Homo sapiens: one gene and its partners. The protein of the gene in region 3 interacts with the protein of the main gene of each other region in a pairwise test. Each region holds a gene or a part of one and is shown on either strand. Other genes may lie near its edges.

Region 1 (7,039 bases), about 14 Mb from region 3:
GGGAAAGTTATCAGGACAACATAAGCTCTACAAAAAAGTGAGATGCTATTAAGATTTTTCTGCTTATTGATTATAACAGTAAATGATATAAAATACTTTGTTTCACATGTAGAGATGATGCTCAGATTGAATTTAATGCTTCAGGTATCCATGGAAGGACAGCCAACCACTCTAGAAGTTATCTAAAGGGAAAAGTATCTATTCCTGTGGGATTCTTTTGATTTCACTCCTAGTCAAGTCTCTTATTTAGAAGCTTTAGTATCCGATAGAATGAGGACAACATAAAAACTTTTAAAAATTATCAGGCTGGGCATATCAATATTTATTGAAATACTGAAAAAAAAAATTCCATTTTGTTGAGAAGTTCCTGGCAAGAACTGACATGACAATATGTATTTCATTGATACAGTAAGAAAACATCAACAAGTAACTGACTTCACACTCTAAACATTGCATGGATTCAAGTCCAAGGCAGCTGCAGATCTGTGATACAAATAATCAGACATTAGAGATTGTCTGTTTACAAACATAGAGCAACTATAATAAACCAAGTTAAGCCAAAAACCTTTATATTTGAGTCTGCTTTTACCGGCAAATCCTGTAATTGATAAGGCAGTTGCTAAGTAAATGCCAGGTTACAAATCGGCTAACAATCAACATTAGAGAAACTTCACTTGTCAACCTTGGGTGAACAGACGCTGGCTGTGACGCTTTCTTGCTTATCAGCTCCTGTCGTTGGTGTGATCAGCAGTGTGGATGTAACCCGCTGTGTTGCCCGTCTTTCTAATCATTCTCATGATTTAATCTACCAGGTTAACAACATACCAATATGTGACATTTTTTAGGTTTAATTTTCAGTGGGGAGCACTGTATCTTTAAAATAAGAGAACATAGATTTTAAGAGTCAACGTAGCCAGGTATGCTGGCATGCACCCCTAGTCCCAGCTATGGGGGAGGCTGAGGCAGGAGGAATGCTTGAGCCCAGGAGTTCAAGGCCAGCCTGGGCAACATGTGAGATCAAGATCCCGCCTCTTAAAATAAAAAATAAAATAAAATAAAAATCAACATATTTGTTTTTTTGGCAATGTTAAAGACCCTCCAAATAGTTATAGTCAAATCTTATAATTGTCTCCATCCACATTACACATGCATGATAGAACCGTTTCATTAACTGTTGACCACACCATTCCTCTCCATGTATCTTCTAGCCAACTTGTTTTTCAGCTGGGGAGGGCAATGATGCTGCTGTTCTCTGTAATGCTTTGGGTATGAGCTCTGATCGGCGATTTTGCATTGTCCTTTGAGCCACGAAGATAACACGGGTGACTGAGACTGCGCATGAGTCAACGCCCAGCTTACCTAATGTGTACCCTTCATGTGGATGAGTATTAGAGGTGATTAATAAACATAATAAAATAATCCTCTTTGTACACACAGAAGTAATAACTAATATCTTTGGTATACAATTTACAATGCTTGGAAAGGAAAACCAGGTAAGACTCCACCTTGTTGAGTTTACTTGAAAACCAGAGGAAGCTACAAGTCACATAATTTACAATAGATATTAAATAAACTACAGTAGGAATGATGAAGATTTACAGACATTTAATCAAGTGAATGATTTTAATTCATTAAGACTCTTCTATGTCCCTGAACTAAGTTCCACTAATTTGAAGACATGCTACAGTAAACACATATATTTGGTTTCTTCAGTCTTGGCTATATCTTATACAAAGGTGAAACCAAGAAACAATAAATTAGCATCATAATTGTCTACAGTTGAAAGTATGATATACAATATAAATACACTACTCAAAAGCCAGAAATATTTATGAAAAAATTAAGGGACTAGGAGATACTTTTATTTTTTACAGTTTCTACAAAGTGATTGTGCCGCCGATAATCTCAAAAAAATTAAAGTCTAAATGAGATTCCCGTTTTTGATTTTAGTGTCTCACGACATAGAATAATTAAGTACTGTTAAAAATAATTACCAATCAGAAAAATAACATTAAGGAAATTACCGCTTTTGCTATTTTGTTATATCACAGATCCCCCTGCCCCTCAGGACCTAAAGAATGTAAACACTATATCTTATTTGACTTTAAAGTATTAATACTTTATTTTAAACAAATGTTGATCCACATCTGCACAGCTACCTTTTAAAATTGTGAAATAAGGCAAGACTTTCATACCTGTGGCATCGCATGTTAATAATACTGATAATAGTCATTTGAAGAATTTGCGATTCTTTGTCCTCCCATATTTGTTCTACAGCAGACTTTGGTCTATGACTTAAAAAGGTCAGTATCACTCTCTTCCTTTCCCCTTTGGGGAAGATTTGAATTACTTTAATATCTTTCCAGGACACATGTAAAAATCACCATTTCCATCCCAACTCTTGAGGATGTTCAATTGCAGCAAGAATGAACCTTGAGTCAATACATCACCTCATCCTTTCCTTTCTCTTTGCATAGATTAACATGCGTCAATTTTGTTTCCAACTACTTAGAACTGTGACTATTTGACATCCTAGCAAAATGTGTTTAATGTTGTATTTTTAAATGAACTACAAACTTGGATGATGAAAAAGACTGATGTATACTAACAAGACTTCCTGCCAGAAATTTTTTATGAAATCCAACAATGCCAAAGCCACATTTCAGCAACAGTAGCAGAAATAAGGTCTAAGTTGCTTTAGCTATGGAGCATTTGCTTTGAAAGTTTGTAGTCATTTCCCTTAATATTAATTAACACTTACATAAGATGAGGGATACTGCCTGCATTTTCTTAACATCATGAACACGAGACAAAACAACCCTCAGAACATATTTAAAATGGCAAGCTAACATATTAATAGAATTTCCTATTAGCTGTTTGCAGGTCTAAGACACAGACACTCAAAATTAGGCTGTTCATGATTTGGTGGAGCTACCACTGGGTGTGGCTGAACACAGGTCCTTAGTACAGATTCGGTGACCACAGGGCAGAGGTGCTGGGGCCTTCAAAGGAAGAGGGAGGGGCTATTGTAGGTACAGCTGATGCATTCTTGAGAATTGTTTCAGTTCAGCTTTACCATGGAGGAATCCTGTAAGCTCAAATCCCCCGCTGTATAAGCCTAATTAATAAGATTAGTTCCTAAATTTCTTCATAGTGGAGATCAGTTTAAATATACAAGAACCGTTCTGTCCGTTTTTCTTCTGACCGTGTTGGTATCCATCTGTGAGTTCAATCCACTCCATTACAATGTCTTTTATATGGAATCCTCTGGGGCTGTGAAGCCTTTGATTCACAGTTTGCAATACAAATACCCTGATACATCATTTATTTGCTATTAAGTATTTGATTATTATGCCTTTTTAAATTCAATATCTTTAAAGCAAGTTTTTAATTAGCGTTACTTGGAGCAGTTCAGAGTACTTTTTTTCTTCCTGTTCTTCTTCCCCCTCCCCACTCCCCCAATCTCTTTTTGTTTTGAAAGCAGAGCTCCTAGGGGTTGTAACTTATGCTCTTTTGGCATGCAACATTTCAATGAGAAGGTTATTATAGGGCACATCCCCGTTCAGGTGCTTGTAGTAGAGGTATTCTTCAGCCTGCATACTGATGGCCCGGATTTCGGGTAGTCGAAGAAGTAGCTGTCCAAATTTCTCTGTCTGCTGCGGGTAGTTACACATTGTGTAGTCCAGCAGGGCGGCATTGACTTGTTCCTGGACACCTTCTACCAGCTGGAAGTTTTCAAGGTTTTTGACATCTGCATTAAAAAAAAAAAAAAAAAAAGCAACATTTCAATAGCATTTCAATTCCTGTTTACTAAAGCAATGTGTTCAATTAATGGATGTATTTTCCTTTTGACATAAACATACTTTACATGCTGCTGAATATTCAGTAAACCCCACTCACCAAACTTCCTGGGAAAAGGATCACAAAAGAGCTTTAGAAGAATGTCTTGTTGAAATTCTGCATATACCTCAAATCAATTAGACACCAGTGGATTTTGAGCAAGGTCAACTCTTTTCATATCTTACAAAAGGAAAGGATTGAGGATTCCTAAAGTAGAGGGATCTTAATATATTGCCAGCAAATGAGTCCCTGGAGAAAGACCTATCTTAACCCAGTATATTACACAATTCATATAATTCTGTATTAATTTTTCTGACCCAAGGTGAAATCTGTGTCCAGGGTATGATGTAGTTAATTCTAATAAAAAGTGACAGGATTCTTGTTTCTGTTTGACATTTTCTAAATGATTCTGAAAGTCTTTGACTTGTCTAGCCTATGCTAATGAACCATCTGGTACACTCCAGTGACTGCCAACAGAATATTCGCTACTGGGAACTCTCTAAAATATATATCTTGGTGACTAATGATCTTTATCAAATGAGAGCCTTGTCCTTTAGGCAGAACACAAGCCAGGATGGTCAGTGCCCTTTAACCTGCATGTAGTTTCTAAAGTCTGATACTCTGTGTTTCTTTTTTTTCTTCTGGTCACTCATGTAGAGAAGATGAGCAAAGGCATTTCATTCCGCCTAACTCCTGATGACTATGCAGTTGTTTTTAGACATCTGCCCTAAAGGTCCTTATAAATACTGAATAAGAGAGAAAGCCAGAATAAAAAAAGACAGACTGACATACAAACACACACACAGACAATAGGCAAGGGAAAACGGTATGCTGGAATTTCTCTTCTGGGGTTGATTTATGTTAACAGTATGACTTTTATATGATGTGTACATAGAAGCCTCTGGAAAAAATAGACAGATACGTGTGTGTGTTTACATACACCCATGCTCAGAAAGTAAACAGATGCAGCCACCCTGCCCTGCTTTATTTTCTAATTGGACAAAAATAAATAAGAAAGAGAATATGGAGAAAACCACACAGTACTATGACTAAAAGGATAAAGATACTAAACTCGGTTCAAGTAATTCATACCCACTATATACTGTTTTGGGCATTATATACTGTTGAACTTAACCTACATATGTGTACATGTCCATCTTGTTATTTCTAAATGGCTTTACACTGGGCTGTCATACATTCGCTGTTGAAGTGTGTTCAGGACGATTTCAGTGTTTACATTTGGGCCATAGCTTTGCATTAAACATGCTTCCCCTTTCCATCCCCAAGTCTCTGACCCAAATTAAAAACAGTGAGGAATTAGTACTGAAATAGTTATGTAGTGAGTTGGTACCATATCTCTTTCAAAGTGAGATGGCAGACTCAAACATAGTTGATTATTCATTGATGAGTTGTACAAACATAAATACTACACAATAAGGAGCTCTGAGTCTTCCGGTGGCATTTAAATTGGCAACCACATTGGTGTGCTCTGGACATTTTACCCATGCGGCACTTTACAGTTAGTAAAGCATATTCCACCTGTCTTATTTAATATATTTTAAAAATGATTTTAAGTTACTTAAAAATATTTATAAGTATGGCTATGTATCCAGAGTCATACTTGGTTCAAAATTGCAAAATATAAACAATCAGAAATACCTTCAATATGTCCTACCTTGGTACATGATAGAAAAATCTACATTTGTTTTGCATTATAGTGATTAAAACATGACTATTAAAAATTTGAAATGCAGTATTATTTTACGCTACAGTGAAAAATACTCTCACCAGCAAGCAAAGCTAGTAACAGTCAGAGATTAATAGAGAGGATGTAGAAATTTGCATAGAATGAATGTAAAATGTAAGAAAAATGAAGAATACCCTTTTTAGAAAGTTGTTTGAAACTTTCCTTTTTTGATAATTGTATTTTTTTGAGAACCAGTTTTAACATTCTGTGATAAACTATGCTGCTCTGTTAAGGAAAAACAAAAAGAAAGAAAACTACCAACAAACATAAAACAAAGGCTAGATCATAAGTTTTGGTTTATCCACTTACTATTATAGAATGATAATTTAGAGTCTTCAGCTCAGCATTCAATGGTTAACTTCTTTCTTTTTTTTATTTTGAGACAGAGTCTTGCTCTGTTGCCAGGCTGTAGTGCAGTGGTGCGATCTCGGCTCACTGCAACCTCCACCTCCTGAGTTCAAGCAATCCTCCTGCCTCAGCCACCTGAGTAGCTGGGGTTACAGACTTGTGTCACCACACCCAGCTAATTTTTATATTTTTAGTAGAGATGGGGTTTCACCATGTTGACTAGGGTGGTCTCAAATTCCTGACTTCCAGTGATCCACCCACCTTGGCCTCCCAAAGTGCTGGGATTACAGGCGTGAGCTACTGCGTCCAGCCTCGATGGTTAATTTCTATGAATACTGGTCCAAACTGACACCCTTTTCCCCCAAAACTTGGGAAATATGTGCAATTTTCCTTCTGGCAGGAAAATATATAGGTGTCTCATATTTTGGCTAAATATACTATTTTTTGCTAAAGCTGATCAGAATTGAATCCACATGCCTGAGTTAATTATCCCATTAAGCTATTTTGATGAATGTTATCATGAAATAATAAAACATATGCTGCTAATTGTCCCAAAGATTCTTACTTGCCGAATGTCTATTTTGTTTCTACATCTATACACATGGCAATGATCCTGAAGAAGTTCTGAGTGAATTCCTCTCATTTACTGACCATGCCATTCCAGGATCATTGCTCTGCTGCCTGCCTTGATGCTGGCTTCTGTCTATTTAACTGTCTGTTTCCCTATGCAGACCGTAAGCTCCTGGGGATAAGGGATATGCTTTAGTTCAGCCATCCCCAGGGAATACACCGGTAACTCCTTGCTTCACATTATTGGTGCATTTGTCCAAGATTGATACAATTGTGAATTTGACCTGTTAAATTATTTCACAAGCCAATTTCCTTCCTTTTTCTAACTAGAAACTGATTTTCAAAAATTTGGCATATATGTAATGGATCTCTCCCTGAAATAAAATACTGTACTTTACATGTAATAGTCTTTTCTATTCAAAAAGTCCTGTGATGAATCCTTTTGTGATCTGAATAATCAAGTTCTAATTTACATGTTTTGCAAATGAGGATTTTCACTGGTCAGTTTTGTGTTAAGGGAAACGTGCTTATGTT
Region 2 (7,039 bases), on a different chromosome or scaffold from region 3:
CATCTGAATGATTTGTGGACAAGCAAGAAGTTTCCACCGCATTTCTCCTTGACTTTACTAAAAGTTAAATAAACGTGCCACTCGCCCCGGCTGGCTACAAGCTGCAGGGGGTGCCGGGTCACCCCAGGCCTTTTCCTGAATCCCAGGGTAGACGCGGTACACTGAAGGCCAGGTTCTCAGCAGCAGGCCCAGGGATGTGGGACCATGCTTGTCCTGGGTTCACAGGCTCCTTTGTCCCTCCTGGCAGTGCTCAGGACCTCAGACTCCTCAGGGTGGCTGCGAACTGCCCTCAGCCAGCCAGGCCCCCAGGCTTCTGAGTGTTAGTCCTGTCCACACAGGTAGCTCCTGTGCCCTGGGGTCACCTCTTTCTTCTCCTGGGCACCTCAGCTTGGCCAGTTCCCCGGCCCTGCTCAGCTGCTCGGGCCTTGCTGCCTTGTGAGCTCAGCTACTCCTGCCCCAAACAAGGGCAGGGTCTGCAGGGCGCTCGAGACAGAGGAGCTGCCCCACCAGGACCTGGACTTGGCACGGGTTGCGAGGCTCCCACAGGAGTAAGGACGACTTCCCAGCCCCGAAGTAGCCTTCCCAGTAGAGGCAGGAGGCCAGGCTGGCCTCAGAGGCATGATGCTCTTGGGAACAAATACAGGAAAGCTGGAGGTCATGGGGCCTGGGAGAGGGAATCGCTGGGGATGGGAAGCCAGGAGAGCCCTGCCTGCCTTCCCTGTTAGCTTCGGCCTCCCTGGGCTCAGGCGTTAGAGCCCCAGGCTCTGGCACAGAGTAGCCACCCAGGAAATGCCTGTGTGAGTAGGTGATGGGGTCAGTACAAATGGCATGTGGGTCACTAGCTGGAAGGAGTTGGGGCAGGAAGGAGTGGCCCGGTGGGTACATTGGTGACAGAACAAGGCCACGCTGATCCAGGGCCTCTCAGAGCTCAGCAGGTCACAGCTACACAGGCCTGTGTCCTGAGAAGTGTGGCTGCCAGAGTGGTGTAGCGGTCCCAGGGCTCTCCATAGGCCCAGGCTGGGGGTGCCCAAGTCATAGGCCGCCCCCTTCAGTTCCAAGTAAGAAGACTGTATCCCACGAAGCAGCGACAGTCCCTCCTACATCTGCCATGAACAGGCTTTGCTCCTAGCTCTCCACGACCCCCTCCTGTGCACCCCGAGCAGCCTCCACGGGTTGGGGCGCCTCAGAGCCCTCCCTTTCTGATGCATCAGAGCAGAGTGGGGAGCGAGGCACAGCTGTCCAGGAAGGGCCACGGTTGCTCGGCAGGCTCAGGTCCTCCAGGCAGGGCTGGCTGCTGCCCTCATCACCCCCCAAGCAGGCAGTACAGGCCCCAGGGCCCAGGTGCCGTGGTTACTGGGAGGAAGAGGCCATCTGGGTGGAGATGAAGGTCTCGATGACGCTGTGGTTGGATGGCAGCAGGTGGCTCTGGCCATTGCTGGAGTCTGAGCTCTGGTACAGCACCAGGCTGCTGGAGGACACTGCAGAGGCAAACAAGGCTGCTAGCCACCCACCAGGCACCCACACCCACCCCACCTGCCTGTCCCTAGGGGTACTCAGGATGGGGAGGCAGGGCCACACCTCCTGGATCACAGCAGATAACAGGAACCCCAAAGTCACACCTCTACCCTCGGTTCTTCAAAGGGAGCCTCCCAGCCAGGGTCCACGGCCGCCCATGGAGTGGCCTGAGTACATCTTAGTGTGAACACTGGAGAAGCCCCGGTGAGATGCCGAGGTAGGTAGTTGTACGTGTTGGCTTGGCTAGGCTGAGTCAAACACTAATCTAGGCGCTGCTGTGAATGCAGGTGCTTTGTAGATGTGGTTAATGCCACAATCAGTTGGCTTTGAGTGAAGGAGATTACCCTGAAAATATGGGTGGGCCTCCTACATCAGTGGAAGGCCGTAAGAGCAAAAACCGGTTTCCCAGAGAAGGAATTCTGCCTCAAGGCTGCAGAATTCACTCCCCAGAGCTGCCAGCAACAGATTTCAGGCCTGCCAGCCCCCCGCAGACACGGGCCAAGTCCTTCAAATAAATCTGTTGGTTCTGTGTTCCTGGAGAACCCTGACTGATGGCAATGGTTAAGAGAATGGGCTTTGAGGTGGGACCTGGGTTCGAGTCCTGGCCCTGCCATCTGGTAGCTGTGGGAGATGAGGCAAGTCCCTCCCCTCCTTGAGTGTCCACTTTCTCATCTGTAAAATGGGGGTGGTCATGGACACGCCTCATGGGGTGAATGCCAGGACACAGAATGGCCTCAGTGGCTGTCATGACAGCTGCCAGGGCCGGGTCCAGGAACCTTATAGAAAGGGGGCAGCTTGCAAAAAGGCAGGCTGCAAAGCCCACCCACCTGACTCCAAAGTGCCCACTCCTGACAATGGCATCATAGATTACAAACTCAGGTGACCGCCCCACCGCCAGGGGTCATTGGAGCCGATGTGAGTGGATGCAGTGAGGCCTGGTGCACTGTTATATGGGAATATGAATTTTTCCAATTTTCCAAAAGATGCCAGAAATCTGGATTTCTATGTGAAAATTCCTGATTTTGAAATGTTGGCAACAAATTCAAAGAATGTTCAACCCTGAGCCAAGCCAAACCAAACACATGCAAGAGTCGCTTCTGGCTCACAGACCTGGTCCTTATCGTTACTCTCCACTGCCTCTAACAATTACTTCATCATTTTCCTCAGTCCAGTCCCTGAGATGTTCTTGTAAGGTGGGCCCCATCTTCCTGGGGTCGCCTGTGCCTCTTGGGCTTCATGGAAGCCCACCCCACCCCTCCACGCCTGCCAGTGCTTCCTCACAGCAGCCCTAGGCCTGCTGCATGCACAGCCCCACAGTGACGGACAGCAACAGAAGGGGTGGGACCAACATGGAAGGGGGCAGGGACAGTAAGGGAGGGGGTGGAGCCAGGGCCTCTCACCTGTGGGGCTGGCGCTGAGCCGGTGGGCCGGCTGCAGGTGCTGGATGCTGGCAGGGTCCTGGCTGGGGACGTGGAGGGTGGTGGCCTGAGATGCCGGCGTGTGAAGCCCGGACTCACTGGAGGCCTCAGTGTCTGAGGTGAAGACCTGGGGGAGCAGAGCAGCCTCCTGAGCCCGGGGGATGTGGGGGTGAGGGGCTCTGTCACAGGCCAAGGGAGGGCCAGCAGGCCTGGACCTTACCTGCTTGGTGGGCGTGAGGCTGGCCAGGGCGCTCAGGTTGGTGGTGTCGGTGATGAGCATAGTCTGCGGGAGCAGGCCCGTGTGGGTGTACTGGGCCACCTCGGGCTTGTGGCTGTAGAGGGCTGGCCGCAGGGGAGAGAGGGGCAGACGTGGCAGACGTGCCTGACAGCCCTAGTCCCAGGCCTCAAGACTGGGGAAAGGGGGGCATGGGGCCTGCTGAACAGCCAGACTGGGCAGCAGTTGGAGATCCAGGGCTGATTTTCAAAACTGGAGGCTCCAGATAAAGGGACAGACCCTCTCCCCATTACAGGGAACTGCTCAGCTGCGCTTGATGCAGGGGAGCCTGGAGGAGGCCAGAAACCAACTCCAGCTCCTCTTGTCACCTGGAGACAGCAGGTATGAAAGGGAACGGGAGGTGCAGGTGCAGGGCTACTGTACTAAGCACGGGTGCTACGTACTAAGCGCAGGTGCTACTGTACTAAATGCAGGCGCTATGTACTAAGCACAGGTGCTACTATACTAAACACAGGTGCTATGTACTAAGCACAGGTGCTACTGTACTAAACTCAGGTGCTGTGTAGTAAGTTCAGGTGGCCCCTGTCAAAGAGCAAGGCAGAGGACAGCAGTACTTCCATCTCCAGGCCACCTTTCCAAATATAACCCCATGTTTTGCCTACAGCACCTCCACCCACCCCTCAGGAGACACATAGACCCTACAAGAGACACACAGACACTAGGAAAACGCACATAAACCACATATTCTCACAGTGACTCAGATAAAAATGTAACACACACACACGCATACACTCTCAACCATGTACACACAGACATACACAGGCCCCAAATCTCTTAACCCAGTCCCAAATTCCAAAAAGGTCTGAAACCAAAAGATTTCCTTAAGATTGGCACTAGAGCTCATTTGGTGGCGAAACCCAGCCTGAACCTGGTATGAGGTTATGAGTGTTTAAACTGCCTTGTGGAAATCCTATCTTTGGCTGCAGAAATAGCAGTGCTTTGATCACAGGGGGCTGTCTCAAACCCTGCTGGGAGTGTTATGTGATAGCTGGCATATCCACCAAATTACTTTTCTTTTTCTTTTTTTTTTTTTTGGCAGAGTACTCACTCTGTTGCCCAGGCTGGAGTGCAGTGCAGTGGCACAATCTCAGCTCACTGCAACCTCCGCCTCCCAGGTTCAAGCGATTCTGCCTCAGCCTCCCAAGTAGCTGGGACTACAGGCACGTGCCTCCACGCCTGGCTAATTTTTGTACTTTTAGTAGAGACGGGGTTTCACCGTGTTGGCCAGGCTGGTCTTGAACTCCTGACCTCAAGTGATCTGCCCACCTCGGCCTTCCAAAGTGCTGGGATTACAGGCATGAGCCACCACGCCTGGCCCCAGATTACCTTTCTAAAATCTGAATAGATTTTAGAAATTCATATGGCCCTAAGAGTTTCAGAGAAACACAGGCATGCACACAAATGCATGCACAACCGATACACACCCAGACACGCACTAGGGATCTGCTCACACAAGCAGTCGTGCACACACACAGATACGTGCATTCACATGGGAACACACTGGCCTGCAGACACCCTCAATCACGGAAACACACTTGTCCCAGAGACACATGCAGACTGCAATGCCTGCCAGGCACCCCTTTCCCCTGCATCCATTGACAGCCAACCTCTATCATCATCTCCTGCTGTGTGGGGCACAGGGCGCTCACCGTGGGGGCTCTGCAGCTGAGCCATGGTGGCCATGAAGGGGCTCTGGGTCACATGGCTCTGCACAGGTGGCATGAGCGGCTGCTGGTAGGAGGGGTGCAGCGGCTGGGAGAACTGGACGGGCTGCAGGGTGGTCAGGCTGCTGCCCATGCTGTTGATGACCGGCACACTCTGTGCCTGCGTGGAGGCCAGGCCTGGAGTGGAAGGGGAGGGAATCAGCTGGGCCCCCCAGTTATATCCCACCCCTGCCCAAGACCTCCCAAGGGCACCACCTCTCCTTCCCAGAGCCCGTGGTTTGGAGGAGGGGGCAGGGTGGTCAGGAAACAGCCCTCCACTGGGACCTGCCACTAATTTAAGTGGCTCTGGCAAGTCATTCCCCCTCTCTGAGCCTTTAGCTCTTTGTCTAGGCTAGTGGGAGAGGCAGGCGGTGACTTGTTCAAAAGTTGTCAAACTGCGGTTCCCTGGAGCCCTGGGGTTCCACAGCAGTGCAAAGGCCATGGGGTCAGTTCTCTGCTCCCCTCTCCTAGCAGCTCCTTATCTATCTTATGTACTGGGCTTCTGCATAATTGTACCTGCAAATAAGGGCTTTCTGGGCTTAATTTTTCTTCATAAAACAAAAACTTAGAAAACATCAGTCCCCCTTACCCTGCTGTAATTTGCCCATAGACCCTTCACCTTCTGAGGTACCACAGAATTGATGTATTATGCTTAGTGCCTGCCTCCCTGCTTGAGTTGCTGAGATTTTGGTCTGTTTGGTTCACCCAGGTATCACTGATGTAGCACAGTGACTGGTCCAGAGTAGGCACTGGATAAATACATGTTGTATGAATGAATGAATGAGTCCCAGTGGCTCTTCCAGCTCCTGGATTCTGCGGTTGCCCCATGAGCCTCCCACCCAGGTGCCCACCCATCCCCACCAGCTTACCGATGACCAGGGTGGAGGCACCTGTGTTGGTGAACGTAGGACCCAGGGAGGCAGGCTCACCAGGCCCGATGGTCATGACCCCAGGAAGTGAGGCCATGATGAGGTTCTGGGGCTGCTGGTTGAGGCCTGGGGATGTCTGCTCCAAGCTGTGCAGTGCTGTCAGGGTGCTGACAGGGGGGAGGGGGCCCCCAGCTGCTGAGACCTACGAGGGGAAGCCAAGCTGTGTCCGGGGGGCCGGGGTCCCCACAGGGCCTCCCTAGGGACTGCTCCAGAATCTCCCTGCCAAGGAAAGATGAGGTTGGGTTTTCCTTACAAGCAAGGACACTCACCAGCTTGGCTTCTGTACTCAGCAGGCTGTGGCTGGGCTCCAGGCCCGTGGGGGACACTTGGTGGAGGGGTGTAGACACTGTCACTAAGGGACCGCCGCTGCTTGAGGGTACTTCTGCAGTCTCACTGGTCGCAGGCTGTCCATAGCGCACACCTGGAGAGGGAAGCAGTGTCCTGCCTCAGCACCCCACTTCCCTGCCCTCCCCTGCCTCCACAGCCCTCAGCACTTCAAACTCCATTGGTTTGCTTAGGCCAGCTGCCTGTCTGCCTTTATGCAGCCAGCAAATCTGCCTTTGTTTCTACCTTTTGCCAAGCCCTGGGTCAGCTGCTCCCAGTTCCTTGAAGGCTGGGACTGCATTTATTAGCTCCATTCCTCCCACTGCCTAGTGCTATACCTGACATGCAGTAGGTGCTCAGTAGAAGACAACTGAACTGAATTTAACTGAATTTAGTTGAATTGAAATGAATTGAATTGATACAATCTGAAATGAATGAATTGAATTGAATTAACCCAAATCAACTTAGGTTGAGTTGAGTGGAATGATATGAAGTGGAGTGGATGGTGTGGAGTAGAGTAGATGGAATTGAGTGGAATGAGTGGGATCAAGTGGAATGGGTACAGTCGAGTGGAGTGGTAAAGGGTGGAGAGGACGGGTGGGGAGGAATAGAGTGGAGTGGAATGGTATAGGGTGGAGTGGATGGAATGGTGAGGAATAGTGTGGCGTGGAGTGGAATGAATGGAGTGGCTAGAGTGGAATGGATGGAGTTGTGTGAACACAGTGGAGTGGAATGGTATGGAGTGGAGTGAGTGGGTTGGAGTGGAGTGAATGGAGTAGACTGGAATGGTGGAGTATGTGAATAGAGTGGAGTGGAATGGTATAGAGTGGAGTGAGTGGATGAAGTAGAGTGGAA
Region 3 (7,039 bases):
TTGCACTGTCTTCACATATACACTGCTTCTTTCAGGGGAGTCTGTAAACTACTCTTTCTTTCATAAATTTATGATTGTTCCTGGAGGACATCCTATTTTTTAAAGTCCCCAAATCATTAGCTTTATGACAGTGTGTGTGTTTGTGTGTGTGTGTGTGTGTGTGTGTGTGTGTATGCGCACATGTGCGCATGGGAAGGGGGGGTGTTACTTACTAAATGTCTTCATGTACATAGAAAAAGAAATTTCATAAATTTACAGAAACTGCATTACCCTTGCCCTTGACATCTGATAAAAGAGATTGTTAACTTTTAAAAGGAGAGAGCAGGATTTTCAAGAATGCTTTCAACTGTCTATACAGTCACTGTAGTGTTCCTAGTAAATTCAACAGATGTCGTGAGAATGTAGTTATTTATTAAAATCTCATGTCTTACATAATGACAGCCATGAGGTTAAATATTTACATTGCTTTATAAAAGTTCCCCTCTTGCTTTAGTGTTTCTGTTTTGCTTTTTTTTTGTTGTTTTAAATTTTTTTAAATGATATTCACCCACATCCCTAGTACAGTGACAAAGATTCTGCAAACATAAAACACTTCTTTAATTAAATAATACTCGGAGGCACAAAGCAAACTTCAGGAATATGTGGGTGAACGTTTACTTAAATAATTACTACATTCTAACATCTTCCATGTGTTTTACCATTTAATGTGAAACGTCCTCATTAAACAGCCAGAGATACAGTAAGAATTAAATGTTTTGTTGCAAATAGAACATTCTTTTCACAAAACATAACAAATGTCTAAAATAGGTTCTTAAATCTAGATAGGAAAAGGTAAGCTTTCCACTTCACACGCATATATATATATGTATATTTTTACATGTGTGTATATGTGTGTATGTGATTTTATGTTCACACATCTGCGCACACATATATAGCACATGGTATGAAATATTGCTTCTATACTACTTTTCATTAGGCTAAGAAAACACAAGATTTGCACCACAGTTACAAAAAATTGGCTTCTACAAGAATTTTCAAAACTCGAATGCTGCTCAAACAATTGAGGAAAAAATAATTTGCGGTATCAAACTGTTCTAAAAATTCTCTTCTTCAAAAACGTATTCTCCCGCTTTGTTTTAAAAAGACACAAAATATGCATAGCTATCAACGTTATGTCAAACAGCCAGAAAAAAAATCTAGTGTTTATTGCAGCTGTAGTAATTGGAAATAAAGTCAAAAAGATGAAATCGAAAGCCACAGAAGGCACAAGAACAATTGTACTTGTTGGGAAAAAACTGGTATTTTGAAGGATTTTTTAAAATCCCCCCCGCTGGTGCATTTTAGGTCTAGGCACAGACTATAACCTCAAGCGTATACGCAAAAATAATTTAGGGTTAGCAGAAAATAAGTGGTAGTGTGGTTTTTCAACATGGACTTTAGACTTTTTTTTTTCTTTTCCTATGTAAACTGTCCCTCATCCTTCACCATCCCACCATAGAAAGTTAACTTTCTCCCAAGTAGCCAATTTTCACTTGGTGAGAGTTGAGCTAAGATTTGAAAGATGGTGATTAAAAAAAAAAAATCAAACTGTTAAATAGGAATTTGGAGAGACAGGCTTTTGTCATTTTCCAATGCACTTGGGAGGCACAAGATTTCGATTGTAAAAGGGAAAACCACCGGAAAGCATAGTGATAAAGTTCTATTTTCAGAACAAAGAGGTGAGTTTATCCTCATGCTGCAATTTCTACTCTGAAATAATTTCTATGCCTCAGTGAACATTGAGAGGATATTATCAGTAGATAAGGGCATCAACATTTGGTTGTGAACACACACTTTTGCTTAATTTGTCTATTTAAATTAGAAAGGGAGGGGAAAATAATACTAAAAAAATCCAAATAAGTCTGGAATCAATATTGAACTCGCCCCAGATCAAAAAGATATCTAGCAATCTGTCTACATAGGTGAATACACTACAGCTTTGCCTTTTACCTTGCAAATGGCAACACAAAGTTGATATGAATTACACGGAACAGCAAAAACCCAGTGGCACACTGACACGAACAAGGACTGCCATCCTCTTTTAAAACAAAGCCAGTCAGAAAACTGTGACTACAAGTTGGGATTACTTCCCTATTTTGTGCTGATGGAATTTTTCCTTCCCACTTTATTCCAATGTCATGATTATCCAAACTGCTTTTTTTTAAAGCAAGTGAGAAAAATAACAAATTGGATCTAATGACTCTGTGCATTAGTAGAGTGTGAGCTGGGAGATGTGTGAGGCCGCGGGTGCAGAGTGAGGTGGCTGGTGCCCCCGCCCGTGTGGCTGCACCCTCTGTCTACACTGCGAGGCCCTGTTAGTCCCCTGGATGGTGCAGGGCATCATAGGACTGCACCATTTAATTTAAAGTCAGCAGGTTTTAAGGCTTTGTGCTGACAATAATTGAGTTCATACATTCCTGTCCATCAGCAGAATTTATAAATGACGTTAAATTACAGCGATCGGGTCAGCTAGTCAGTCACATGGGTCAAGACCTGTATTCTCCAAAGTCAAATGTAATTCTTATTAAAGTTGAATTAAAAAATGGCATTTATGTTCTATATGTTCTAAATACCAGATTTGTTACTGTGTCATTTTAGGAGGTGTATATCAAATTACCTAAGGGGAAGGAAGGGTCTGGAAAACAGTTTTAGGATGAACAATGAATTCTTACTGCATCTGGACACAAAAACCCACCTAAGAAAAAAAGTGTGAATGCCATACGAGTTTTTTCAATGCAAGTAGGGAACACTGTACATCATTGAAAAACAGGGAAAAATAAAAGGGAAAAAAGAGGAGAACCATGGAAGAAAGCATAAAATAGCAGCTAGCTTTCTTATGTGTGCTGGAATTGTGTCTTTTGGGTTAACCCCAAATTTTCCTATGCTATACACTCTTCTCACATTTTGGTCAATACTAGCTTCTGAATTGGAAGAGGCATTATCAATTGCTTTAAAATGTTATACCTAAAATGAAGAAACACTGAGTTAGACTGTCACCACTTTGCATACCCATCAGGATAGTGTGGAATTGCTTGTGAAAATATATGTGTTCCTCTTAGGAGATGACGATCAAGTCAGCTAATGGCTGTCAACAAACTTCTAGTGTAGGCAAGAATTTTATGGCCAAGTTGGGCTTTCCTTTATTCCTTACTGGAAGGAAGTATTCAGAAAATAGTATTTTAGGGGAAAAAATTGTTAAGTAAACAGAATCCTTTTAAGCATATAAACAAAGTTGAGCAGCGTAAATTGGAAACTTAGTGCCTTTTAGTATCTGAAGCAAAAATGATAACAAGTTATAGGATTTTTCTTTATGAAGAATGATGTAAGCTCACTTATGAAGAAGAACCTATTTTCAAGTTTAGAGAGGTGGCTACAAGACCAGGTATGAATTTCTAGTCTCATCTTGAGAGAGCTGGTTTTGTGCAAAATTGCTTTGCCTCCAGAAGAAACTGGTACGACTTTCAGAGTTTGCCTCTTTTCTTAGACAAGGCTTGAGAGTGATTATTTTTCTTTTTTAATTTGGCCTTTTGGGGTACTTTGGAAAAGTGAGCTGCTCATCTGTCATTGGAATTATTTTTAAACATGTAAGGAAAAGCTACTGATTGAGTTCAAACCAAACAAAATACTTAAATGTATGAAGTGGTTTCATTAAATTTTCAGACCTTCTTAGCAGTAGAAACAAGAGACACATCACTGTCTGTAGAGTTGTGCTGTGTCATGGGTTTTCCTCAGCCAACCGCCATTTGCAATAAGTCATCAATCAAGTGGATGCATCGTTAACAAATTCCCTTCATTGCTAATAGAGACTTTACACACGCCAACATTCTTTTTCCCTGAAAATTAACCCTATTTTAAGTGTCCAAATGTTAAGGGCCTTGGGCAAAAGCAAACTAAAGGCAGAAAGAAAACAACCATCCCCTTGCAATGGAAAACAAAAGAAAATGAGAGAAACGTGATGAGGAGGAATTACCAGCTGATTTCATAACATATCCATGCCTCCCATACACATATATATGAAATCAAAATCTAGACACATATAACTTGGACATCCAAAGGGGACTGCTACTCTTCATACATTCAAAAAGAGTTGTTGAAATTTCTACTCATGAAGCAGCTCTTGTAGGCAGTTCGGGGATTTGAAAATCTCAGGGACTTCACTATCCAGCTTGCAGATGACCTTGTATATGGCCTTCTTCCAGGAAGGATCAACATCTTTGCCTGCGATAATGGCATTGAAAAACTCCCGTAATGTGATCTGAGCAACTTCCAGGAATCTCTCTGGAACCTGCTGATACAAGGAGACAATGGCATTAATAAAGTTTTCAGTTTCAAGTCTACAGTTATTCCAAGGAAACTGAGCTAAGATCATTCTTGCAGAAAGGGGCTTACATGGCACCTGCATTTTCTAAAAATAGCTGGCTTCTATTCTTTTAATGTAAAGTCATTATATATAGAAGCATTGTGATGTGGGGTTGACAGCTTTGTTTTAAGAAGAGTGTATGAAAGATCCAACGCAGACCTATTGAAAAACTGGGATTTCATTGTGGATATTAGGATAGGAATATGGGATGTGACTTTTGGGATTCCTCACTTTATTAAATAAGTGCTATCCAGAAGAAAGTCTCCAATTATTTTTTCAGAATTTGAATCCTATTTCTTTTTGATTGCCATGATGAAAACAAAATACGTTCTCAAAATAGAATAACAAATAGTTGGGCTTCTTTATAAATTAAACCCAAGCTTTAAATGAAGAAAATCTTCTAAAATCTCAGTTATCTGTTTGTCTCAGAGGATTGTTGACTCAGATGCTAAGTTGTATATTAATCTGCAATATAAAGTATTCTATATACATAAAGGAGTAAAATAATAATATTAACATGAAGTCACAAAACTGATCCTAAAATATTACATCAGAAACTACTTAACCTTGAGATTAGAATTGCTCCATAAGAGAGTGATTTATTCAGCTGATAATAATAATAATACAAACTAACTTTTTTCGAGTATTTACTACTTGCCAGGCTATGTTTTATGTACTGAATGTGAATTATGTCATTCAGTTCTCCCAATCTCTCTAAGGGGTGTTATTATCCCAGTTACACAATAGAAAACTGAGGCTCAGAGAGGGTAAGGAAATTCCTCAAGGTCCTTATCATCCAAAATAAACATTCCCCAAATATTCATTTTAGAACCCCAATTTCTTAAGGCTTTTCTTCCACAGCAATTAATATGTATGTGTGTTGTGTGTGTGTGTGTGTTCTCTTAATTACTTATTAATCTGATCTCTTGACTAAGGAAAGCAGTAGCTACTGATGTACTTATTTAGTGTTCTTTGGAAGTTACTTATAGTACAGCATGGTCTATCTATCCCCACACCAACATAATGGAATCACAGAATAATCCATGAACTCATGATTTTCCAAGTACACATTGACACTTAGTAGATTTCTTTTAGTGGGGTACTTATACACCAGTAAAGTTTCATTTTTACATTAAGTGCAGACGTATGAGGACATAAACGTATCATAGGTGTACATGTAGCCATATTTATCTACGCATATACAAGAGATGAAAGACATTTCATCTAAGTTCAGACATGCCACGTACCAAAGTAAAAAGGAAGTAGTGTAATGTTGAACATGTTTCATCTCTTTCTTCCCACCTTGGGTGCAATGTACTTTTTAACAATAGTAGTAACTGGTAAAGAAAACCAGAATCATCACCCGACATCACTGTTTTTCACGTTTAAAATTGGACAAAGAAGTTCATTGTTCCCTATGGCAAGTTAATTGTTGTTTATAAAGAAATGTAATAACTCTGCAGAAAAAAATGAAAGGGACTCCTTTTGGGGCCAATCAGTCTTAAGCTTACATTTTTATCAGACCCTCCTAAAGACTTTCACACTGGCCCATTTCTTAGGACATAATTCCCAGTGTTGCCTGGAAAATCCTTCAAAGTGCCGCCTTGTCCGCCATGAATGTGCAAACCCATACACCTCAAGGGCCATTCTCTGCTGAGAATTCATGTGGATTTTCTACAGGCCTTTGGGTGATTTCCTCCCAAATGTCTTGTATACATGAGTATTTGTTGGAGGAGAGCTTAGCCCTCCCACTCACATTATACAAATAAAAATTCGTGAAGCAATCTTTTCTAGCACAGTCACCTCCACCCCCAAAGATAATCCTCCACATTCTATCAAATGAGCATCACTGAGGGAGGGAATGTGGCTGGAGAACAGTGAAGCGGAGCAACTGCCCACTCTCACTCCTTGGATTGGGAGCTGTTAGCCAAATGCTACAGAAACATAATCATAGGCATTTATTAATTTATTTATTTGAGATGGAGTTTTGCTCTGTCACCCAGGCTGGAGTGCAGTGGCATGATCCTGGCTCACTGCAACCTCTGCCTCCTGGGTTCATGAGACTCTCCTGCCTTAGCCTCCTGAGTAGCTGAGATTACAGGCAAGTGCCATCACGCCTGGCTAACTTTTGTATTTTCAGTAGAGATGGGGTTTCACCATGTTGGCCAGGCTGGTCTCCAACTCCCAACCTCAGGTGATCTGCCCGTCTTGGCCTCCCAAAGTGCTGAGATTACAGGTGTGAGCCACTGCACCTGGCCAATTATAGGCATTTATTAAAATAAACGTTTCAAGAAGGGTGGTTTCATCAGCCAACGGCAATACAGCCTCAGTGAAATTCTATGTTCCTTGAGCACTCAGGGATGCAGCATGACATGGCAGAGAGCTTTGAGGGGTGAAGGTGTGGGCAGCTGCCCCAGAGAAGCCAGAGAAGGCCGGAAGCCCTGCCCACACCAAGAACTGCACAGGAGGTCTGGGGAACCAGGGACAGGGGAAGGGCAGGCATTGTTCAAGACTGTCAGAGGAGAGAGAAGAGGTACATCTAGAACATCAGCAGCAGGGGAGGGAGGGAAGTGTAGTTGTAGGATTTGCATGAGAACAAGGCAACTTCTTTGGGGGTTGTATGCAGTCTCCTCTTCATCA
Region 4 (3,558 bases), on a different chromosome or scaffold from region 3:
CCGAGGCTGGCGGATCACCTGAGGTCAGGAGTTCAAGACCAGCCTCAACATGGAGAAACCCCGTCTCTACTAAAAATACAAAATTAGCCGGGCGTGGTGGTGCATGTCTGTAATCCCAGCTACTCAGGAGGCTGAGGCAGGAGAATTGCTTGAACCTGGGAGGGGGAGGTTGCGGTGAGCCGAGATCTCCCGCCATTGCGCTCCAGCCTGGGCAACAAGAGCGAAACTCCGTCTCAAAAAAAAAAAAAAAAGGTGCTGTGGTATACACCGGTGCTTCTCACACTTTAATGTGCATACGGATCACCTGGGATCCTATAAAAAGGCAGATTGATTTAGTAGGTCTGGGTAGTGCTGGGATTATCCAGTTCCAACAAAGTCGCAGGAGATGCCGTGCTGCTAGTCTGGACCACACTTACCTACTCTCTCCTAGACCCTTCACTAGAGACAGGATGTAAGCTAGGAAACTATGTACAGTCCAATTCAATAACCAAGAAAAAAGAAGAAAAACAAGGCAAGTGTTCCATTAGAAGCTGAAGTTTTATTATAGGATAACAGTACATAAAGCACATCTAAAATTGATGTGTTCAATGCACTTTTAATAAAGGTAATGTAATATTAAAGGTACAGTTTCTAAGTACAATATAACAACATTCATATTAGAATGAAAATTGGAGTATTTAAAAGACAACATTAAATCTCTCTTTTTTGTACAGCTTGTATTTACAAAATGAATCAAAATATTTTTTTTTTAAATTCAGGACTCAATAAAATAAACAGCTGGAAATAAGCAGACTAGTGTAAGAGTGAATTGAAAAGAAAACCCAAGGTAAGTGAAAAGTTGGACGATCCTCTAATAAAGATCATTAGCAAAGTTTTAGTTCAATACTAGTTTTAGGATTCCCATAAATGGCTTGCATTTTTAGTGTGGCAGAAAAGGAGTTTTTACATACTGTACACAAAACAGACAGCATATATTTATAGGTACAGTATTACTGTTTCCAAACTTGCATGTATATTTACAGAAGGCTGAGTTTGTTTACTCAAACAGAAGTTTGTGAAATTTGTGTGCTTAATCCTCAAGACCTACACACAATTAGAATCAGCATTTCATGTGGTCTTTTTAAATGTGGCTTTAATACTTGGTTGTAGAGGAGAATGTTAACCGTAAGGCTTGGCTTACTTTGTAAATTTAACAAAACAACCCAGGAAAAACGTTTTAATTGGGGCACACTTGTTATCATTTAACAATTGTCAAATGCTGACATGTGCTAGCCATTGTGCAGACGCAAAAAGATACAATCTCTACCCTCAGGAAGCTTAGGATGCTAAATCGTGCTTTAAAAAAAAGGTTTCAATCTCTTTCCAAGAGAGGCAGTTAAGGAATGATGTGATTTATATTAAAAGAGATTTCTCCCTCAACTGTAGCCAATCCACTTTAAAAGGTTAACTACTAGCATTAGCTCTCATTAACCACACAATTGCATTTATAATTAAGGTAACAGCAACTCTTCCACAAAAATGGAAAATGTCTAGAATTGTGGATAAATATTGCAGTGCATGGAAGCCAATAATCATGGCTTGAGAATTTATCACCTTCAGTTACAAAAAGTGCAGTAAACAGAAACATTTGCTCTACATTTATAAATTGCTCAAAAATCTTTGCTAAAGATCTTACAAATTCAGTAATATTACAGAACAATTCTAATCAATATTTAATAAGGTTAACTACATCCTTAGTTAGATATTTGATAAACTTTGCTTTTCAATAATGCCAGTAGATCTTGGGAGAATGGGTAGAAAGGCTTAATTAAGCTACTTATTAAATAACTTTGAAAATGAAGGTCCTTCACTCAGTTCATGGAACTGGTTGAGGTCATACTGAAACAGAACATCCCATGTCGAATTTGCTTTATGGCCCATGTTATGGCAGAGGACGTCTCCATCCTTCTCATGACTCAGGTAGGAGGGGAAAGGTTTATTCTGCCATCAAGCCATCTAGGATATTTTATGTAAATGCCCATTATCTATAATAGGAGCTAAGAATACAACTGTGTTAGGTGCCAGTAATACAATTCCTTAATAAGAAAAAAAAGTATATTACTCCATTAAACAAGTTTCTTTAGGATCTTGAAGGCCTGGCAAATTATTTTTCAGCTTAGGAGATATGCTGTAAAGCCAAGTAGCAAACATAAAGTAAATGCTAATAAGTTTCCATATAGCCATATTTATAAACAAATTCACCCTATAGATGTCAAATATCCATACTAAGGAAGTAATTTTATCCTAATTAAATACACTCTAGAATAATTTATATAATGATATTATGTATTTAAAGAGAAAAGCATGTCCCAAATCCAGCACTCTGATACAGCTGCCAGTTGGGCATAGGTAGATATATATATATATGTATATATATACAAATATATAGTTATACTCAGTGAAATTAACAAGACCCAAAGGTGGTATTGTCTAGGAATAAAAGGGATAATTTTTGTTGTTCACAAAAGTAACTTGTCTAGCACCACACATCAGAAAAACACAAAAATAGCACACTCTAGTTCTAAACAGCTATGTCTAAAATAGATTATATAGTAAAACCGGTATTATACAGCATATTGTGGATTTGATAAACAGATAAATATTTGCACTGAGTAGGCTGTTTATAATATAACATTTTCTTATCTATACAGAATGAAAGCCAAAAAGTTAACTGTATAGAGATGTGCAGAACAACATTAAATATTATGACTCAAAAGCAGGGACAGGTAAATTTGAAAGAAGAGTAAGAGAGAAAATGTTTACAGGCCGTTACAAGTTCTTAAGTTAATAGTAAATAAGGAATCGATTGCTCAAGTTGAAGAAAGCAGTAAACAAGAGATTGCATTTACATGCAGATGTCTAAAATTTGTATTTTTTAAGTCTATGCACAAAAGTCATTTGTTTTATTGCTTGACATTCAGTTATGGCTAGATTATTTAACCTATTTTTTTTGTACTTTGGAAACAAGAATATTGTTAAAGGTGCCATAAAAATGGACAACACTGAAAACAGTTTGCAAATAAACCACCTAACACTGCAGTTCTTTATACATATTAAAAGCCTTGTCTGGGGTTTGTCATATGTTAAATATTATTTAAAGTGGGAAAATATGTTGTAGCTTGAAGCCTCCCATTGGCCCAAACATCCAATACAAAAACACATCTCCACAAAAGGAGCAGGCAGACAATACAGGTACATTTATAGAAGCAGCCAGCTAATGTCCTAATGTTTAAAAATTTACCACTGTTTAATATGAGATTTCAAACTGTGTGGATAACAGGAGAATTTTGGATTCAGGAAGATGTATACAGTACATATGGATTTTTTTTGTGAAATCATTTTCACTATATTGCTCAAGAATTATCTGCATTTACATATGCAATCTGTTCAGTGATAATCAAGTTCCTAGAAATAGTATTCATCCACATTAAAGTAATAATGATGAAAAAGGAATCACACATGAACACTGGAGAGAATTTAGTTGTTCTTAGAGAACAACATAATGGCATGTGCAACATG

What was found.
Region 1: the proteins of PROX1 (region 3) and NR5A2 interact in binary tests that used the Homo sapiens proteins (3 or more experiments, as listed by UniProt).
Region 2: the proteins of PROX1 (region 3) and HNF1A interact in binary tests that used the Homo sapiens proteins (3 or more experiments, as listed by UniProt).
Region 4: the proteins of PROX1 (region 3) and RORA interact in a two-hybrid assay, tested with the Homo sapiens proteins (one study listed by BioGRID).

What each region holds. Positions count from the first base shown.
Region 1 is NC_000001.11:200,170,675-200,177,713, reverse strand, and holds the end of NR5A2 (nuclear receptor subfamily 5 group A member 2), read right to left. Parts: intron 3,752-7,039; coding exon 3,504-3,751; 3' UTR 299-3,503; downstream 1-298. UniProt on the Homo sapiens protein: Orphan nuclear receptor that binds DNA as a monomer to the 5'-TCAAGGCCA-3' sequence and controls expression of target genes: regulates key biological processes, such as early embryonic development, cholesterol and bile acid synthesis pathways, as well as liver and pancreas morphogenesis.
Region 2 is NC_000012.12:120,995,504-121,002,542, reverse strand, and holds the end of HNF1A (hepatocyte nuclear factor 1-alpha), read right to left. Parts: intron 6,282-7,039; coding exon 6,130-6,281; intron 6,003-6,129; coding exon 5,801-6,002; intron 5,070-5,800; coding exon 4,878-5,069; intron 3,276-4,877; coding exon 3,154-3,275; coding exon of another isoform or gene 3,061-3,153; coding exon 2,916-3,060; intron 2,058-2,915; exon of another isoform or gene 1,479-2,057; coding exon 1,351-1,478; 3' UTR 31-1,350; downstream 1-30. UniProt on the Homo sapiens protein: Transcriptional activator that regulates the tissue specific expression of multiple genes, especially in pancreatic islet cells and in liver. Binds to the inverted palindrome 5'-GTTAATNATTAAC-3'.
Region 3 is NC_000001.11:214,032,934-214,039,972, reverse strand, and holds part of PROX1 (prospero homeobox protein 1), read right to left. Parts: intron 4,328-7,039; coding exon of another isoform or gene 4,325-4,327; coding exon 4,139-4,324; 3' UTR 1-4,138. UniProt on the Homo sapiens protein: Transcription factor involved in developmental processes such as cell fate determination, gene transcriptional regulation and progenitor cell regulation in a number of organs.
Region 4 is NC_000015.10:60,487,766-60,491,323, forward strand, and holds the end of RORA (nuclear receptor ROR-alpha), read right to left. Parts: 3' UTR 519-3,558; downstream 1-518. UniProt on the Homo sapiens protein: Nuclear receptor that binds DNA as a monomer to ROR response elements (RORE) containing a single core motif half-site 5'-AGGTCA-3' preceded by a short A-T-rich sequence.